Regions from separate parts of the Homo sapiens genome. Here region 1 is linked to region 2. The links come from fine-mapping of genetic effects on gene expression. A gene starts in region 2. The other region holds a variant in brackets. All regions are shown on one strand. Distances are between the middles of the regions. Region 1 overlaps HLMR1 (hepatic lncRNA metabolic regulator 1). Region 2 holds the start of HLMR1 (hepatic lncRNA metabolic regulator 1).

Region 1 (2,919 bases), 16 kb after region 2:
AAGACCATGTGACTCGTTACTATAATGGCCTGCATAAAAAACAAAAACAAAACAAAAAAACCCTCAGGGAAGAGAAGACTTACAACTATGACCTCATTTCTAATTGGACTGTGGTGAAAAAGAAACTAGTCATAGCTGAAACTAGGGGCCAGGAGGGCTGCTTGCCTCTCCTGGGCAACCTGTAGTTGGCGAAACTTTAACTCTACGTATAAAGAGACCATTTTTTACAGCGAGTTTGGGGTAAATTGTGTAAAGTCTCAAAGGGACCTAATACAGGACATTTCCTACATTCCGAATTTGACACTTTAAGGAAGACTGCGATAGGTAATGTGACCTTCCACCTTAGAGATAGTATCATTCATTAATGAAGGGTATTTAGTTTTGTTTTTATAACTCCAATAAATTTAAGAAATGTCTTGGTGGTCCTTGAAAGTGGAAAAACATATTTATATGCCATATTTTTCTTCCTGCTGCTCTGTCTTCTTGGAGAGCCTGCCTGGAGCAACCAGGTAAGTTGAAAGGAGTAAGGACTTGGGGCCAGGCAGCCAGACAGACGTGCGTTCACATTTCAGCATTCACATTCATGAATTCAGTAGTTCAGTAGTTCACTAGTTCAGTCAGAGACTGGATGAGTGTGAGCGTGAAACTTATGCTCCCTGTTTCCCCAGATGTTAAGTGAAATCAATAATAATTACATTGAGGAGATGTGAAAATAATGAAGTAACATATGCAGAGTGCCTAGTTCATAGTAGATGCTTGAAAATGATGCTGTCCTTCCTCTTTCCCTTCTGTCTGCCATCCTTCAGATGGACTCAACGACTCTCTTACCGTCCAGCTCTCAAGTCCCTTCTCTTGTGAAAATGGAAAAGTTGAACTACAGTTGAGATATTATTCCCAGGTGTTCTTTGGAACACAGGGGATTTCTCCAAAAGGCACAGAACAAATTGCCTCCAAACAGCCAAGATTCCAGCAGAAGCTGGAGTAGCAGACTACTTGGATCTTCAAAGTACCTGGCCCTGAGTCAGTTAAGGAAGATCTTTTCTTCTCTTTTGTACAATCCTATGATGAGAGCTGCAAAGTGAACTGACTAAGAGCTTCTGCCTTGATCATTGACCTCCCAATCCTAATAATATGTTCACTGGCCAAACTTCCTAATCGATTTGTCTTTTGGATATAACGTTCCTCCTACTGTTTGCCTGATTGAGAAATCTGCTACAGAACATGACCGGTTAGCATTCCCACCAACCCCAGTGCTACACTGACTGTCTTTC[G/A]ATGGACTTTGCTCCTTGCTGCCTCTCTGAGGTCCCAGACCTTCAGAGTGACCTTCACAGCTCTGCCTAACTTTCTGTCATACTTCTATCAAGAGAGACAGCTAAATCAATATTTTTAATGTGCTTTGCTGTCGGAATTCGATGATCTGTCACAGTTCTTGCCCAATACACCCCATCATTATTGTTAAAATGTTTTTAGCTTTGTTTGTAGAATTGCTTTAACTGGTTTCATCTCTGGGAGCTACACTTTGAAATATAACTTTAGCAACATTTTACTATACTTTTTCACAACCCAGAGCAGTACTATTTTATGCTTAGTGGTTAAACTAATTCCATAAATCTTTTGCAACTATCCTCTATTCTTTTTCTTGTAATTTTTACCTGGGAAGGTTTTTACTGATAATCATCCTATCCTGAGTCATCCCACAAACCAATCTGTCTCACTAATCATTGCTTCTAACCTACAGACTAAGCATAACTTCTGCTAAATGATCTTTGATAAGATGCTATGACTCTATAAAGTCTTTGATATTCATGTCTAAATTTAATCACTTGTAGATTTTCATAGAATCAATCTTTCACTTCTACAATTGGGAGTATTTATAAGTTGTTTATCTTAAACAGTTCCTCTATCACGCTTTTCACGTTAAATAAAGCAATCCCTTCAAATCAATTTTCTGTCATGTCTAAGATGTTATTATTTCATGGTATGGGTCAGGGGTCTACAGACTTTTTCTGTTAAGACCTAGATAGTAAATATTTTAAGCATTTCAGACCATACAATCTCTGTTGCAACTACTCAGTTCTGCCATTGTAGCACTAAAGCAGCTATAGACAATACATAAATGAGTGAGCATGGCTGTGAGCCAATACAACTTTATTTATGAATGCTGAAATTTGAATGTCAAGTAATTTCATGTGTCATAAAGTATTACTCTTCTTTTTTTTTAACCATTTAAAAATGTAAAAACTATTCTTAGTGTGTGGGCTGTACAAAAGCCGGCAGAGAGCCAGATTTGCCTGGGAGTTATAGTTTTCTGACTACAGTATACTTTATGGCCAGGAGCAGATTCAGGTTTTGTGGGGACTGAGCTCTTTACAATTAGGGGGCCCTCTTTAAGAAAAGGAATGCAAGACCAGGCATGGTGGCTCACGCCTGTAATCCCAGCACTTTGGGAGGCCAAGGTGGGTGGATCACAAGGTCAGGAGATCGAGACCATCCTGGCAAAACAGGGTGAAACCCCATCTCTACTAAAAATACAAAAAAATTAGCTGGGCATGGTGGCGGGCACCTGTAGTCCCAGCTCCTCAGGAGGCTGAGGCAGGAGAATGGCATGAATCTGGGAGGCTGAGCTTGCAGTGAGCCGAGATAGTGCCACTGCACTCCAGTCTGGGTGACAGAGCGAGACTCTGTCTCAAAAAAAAAAAGAAAAGAAAAGAAAAGAAAAGGAATACAAAATTACAAATATAAAATTAGATACGGTGCTTTGGAAGAGACCCATGCAAATGAAAGGCCCTGAAAATTGAGCCTCTTTGGCATCCTGGTGAATCTACTTCTAGTAACACTTGGACAATCTTGCTGCAAGGGTTCCCTGAACTGGCTGATCTTTGGAGTCACCTAACTACAGGTTCCAAAGCCCCAACAGGT
Region 2 (2,919 bases):
CCTGGGTAAAAGGAACTGCTGTCAACAGGCCTTTAGTTAGGTGGTGGTAAGATCTGTGGGGAGAGGAAGTGTTCTCCTCAGTCTTTCAGTGAGCCCATTACTCTGGATTGTGAACTTCATGTGCCTCTAGGTCCCTTCCCCCACCTCACCTTAGGTGGGACAGGATGGCTGGAATGGACTTGAGTTGGATATTTAACCCCAGCAGGTCAGGCTCTGGTTACATAGTTTCTCCTGAGGACAGACCTTGTTAAGAACATAATGCTCTAGCATATTTCAAAATGGCTCCTTTTCCCCTCCCACTGCTGGAAGCAGGAGGGGATTTTTTTCCCTAATATTCACTGTGAGACCTGGTAGTGCTCCTGGAGGTAAAACCCACAAAAGTGTGGGGACCTCTCTATGATTCAGTTCCCCTGGATTTTTATCTCTCAGACTTGTTCACACTTGTCTGAGAACTGGCTCCAGCAATTCACAGTTACAAGTTCAGACTTTTCTGTGCCAGCACTGGTTCCCATGGAGGTTTCTGCTCTTGAAGTTGTGATTCTCTGTATTTGCCTGTTGGTCTTCCCAATTTTGGGGGAAGCAATTTGTCCTGTGCCATCACTTCTCTTATAGAGCTAAGAAGAGTTGTTGATTTTTCACTGCTTTTTTTTTTTTTTTTTTGAGACAAGAATATCGCTCTGTCACCCAGGCTGGAGTGCAATGGTGCAATCTCGGCTCTCTACAACCTCCACCTCCCAGGCTCAAGCAATTCTCATGCCTCAGCCTCCCGAGTAGCTGGGACCACAGGTGTGCACCACCATGCCTGGCTAATTTGGTTTTTCAGTTTGTTCAGCTTTTTACTCATTAGGACAGAGTGGCAACTTCCAAATTTCTTACATGCTGAACCAGAAACTGTTTTGTTAGTTTTTTAGGATTCACTTTAAGTCTTTTCCTCCAGGGAGACTTCCCCAACTTTCAGGTCTGCATTAGGGACCCCTATGATGTGCTCCTGTAGATGCTTTTTGTTTCCCATAGCTTTTATACATATTGTGATTGTCAATTCACTTGTCAGATTCCCCCGTTAGACTGTTGGCTCTGTGTGGAAAGGACGGTTTGCCTTACTCATTCCTGTATTCTCAGCACCATCCATCAATGCCTGACATATAATAGGTATTGAATAAATATGTGTTGGGTGAATAAATGAATGAATGGAAGAGCTTATTCTCTGTAATTACAAATAAATTAGAAGCAGCTGTTAAATATAATTCATTCATTCAATCAATCACTATTTACTAAAAGCCTATCATGTGCCAGGCACTAGGTTAAGAAACTGATGATGAAAAAGCCACATAAATATGGAAACATGTTTGTAACACAATCTAATGAAAAAAAACCAGAATACATGTATGTACACCATAATTTAAACTCTTTAAAATATGTAGGAGGCAGGCTGGTATTGCACAGTGGTTTTAAGATTTTCTATTTTTAGTTAAAGTCTCTTTCTTCAAATGAAATCTTAGAAGGACAATGTATAAAACATAAAAAGCAAGATTTTCTGCTTGATGCGGGGGCAGAGGCCAGAGCCTGCCTACCCTTTTCCTAGTCTGCTCTCCTGTCTGTCCTCTGTGCTACTGCCACCTTCCCAAGCCAGAAGTAAGCCACTGTGGCACCTTCACAGAGGATTATTTGAAAATTCCCAAAATAGACTTCTGGTTAAACATTGCAGTTTAAAAACCTGTGTTTTTCTTTCATCTCTTTCAAAATGCTACTAAAATGACAGCAAAGAAGCCAAAAAGGCCCAAGTCCACAAGACAGAAAGAATAGGTGAAAAGTCCATGTCATCTCATTTTTGGAGATGGACATGGACAGGGGCTGAAACTGCAGTACCAGCAGATGGGGAGCTTAAGAAGGAAGCTAGTTCATGGCACAGCACCCGTAAAGTCCCCAGAATTGGAGGCACCAGATTCTTCTGAAAGAAAAGGTAAGAGGCGGAGCTGAAAACAGGAGGTTTATGGAAAGTCCTTGGAGAAAGCAGTCAGACCTCTGGATTCCTTCCTCATCTTTCAGCAGCCTCTCTCTTGTCCTGGCAGAAACCAGGTTTACTCTCTTGGGAAACTCAACCACAGGAGGATCTGGGGACACAGACCGGCGAAGGATGGTAGAGATGCATCACTGAACTAGGAGAATTAAATGATTGGCTTAGGGTTGGGAATGCGACCTCAACTGGATCAGTTGAGGCCATCCTTGGCATTTTTAAATTCTGAAGCTGGAAGTGTGGGGAGGATAGTGTGTGTATTCTGCAGGTGTTGAGGTCCTTGTTCTAGTCCTTGAGATTCCTGGCTCCGACTGTTTCCTGTAACTCTTTAATTCTATGAAACACCCAGTATTCTTCTATTTTATTCTGCTCAGGCTGCATTAACAAAGTATTACAGACTGGGTGGCTAAAAATGGGAATTTAATTCCTTGTGACTTTGGAGACTAGAAATCTGAGATCCAGGTGTCATGGAGGTTGGTTTCACTCTGGAAACTCTCTTCTTGCTTGCATATAGGCCTCCTCTCTGTGCCTTCACTTGGCCTTCCCTCTGTGTGTGTCTTTGTCCTAATCTCACTTTCTTACAGGGACACCAGTTAGATTAGATTGGGATCCATCCGAATGACCTCAATTTACCCTGATTACCTCTTTAAAGGCCCTATGCCAAATATGGTTATATTTGGAGGTTCTGGGAGTTAGGACTTCAACACATGAATTGTGGGGGGACAAAATTCAGCCCACAATGCCTTCTACTATTGCCAGCAAATAAATAGCTTTTGAGATAACTTAAGAGATTTTAAATTTAGTTTCTGGTGCTTGCACGCAAAGAGTTCTGACTTATACTATTCACTTGCCTCTTGGATATTGCCTTTTGTCCATTATAGTTGTCATTAACTGTTATTTAAATC

What was found. PIP is the estimated chance that this variant, and not a neighbour inherited with it, causes the effect.
Region 1: its variant is fine-mapped to the expression of HLMR1 in liver (GTEx, PIP 0.98).

The regions. Positions count from the first base shown.
Region 1 is chr3:142,940,593-142,943,511 of GRCh38, forward strand. It overlaps HLMR1 (hepatic lncRNA metabolic regulator 1), which reads left to right. Exons shown (of 5, transcript NR_038455.1): 5 at 807-1,944. Among named protein-coding and RNA genes, the nearest start is that of HLMR1, 15 kb to the left of the region's middle. The variant G/A (reference allele first, on the strand shown) is at 1,272.
Region 2 is chr3:142,924,937-142,927,855 of GRCh38, forward strand. HLMR1 (hepatic lncRNA metabolic regulator 1) reads left to right here and starts at 1,739. Exons shown (of 5, transcript NR_038455.1): 1 at 1,739-1,960.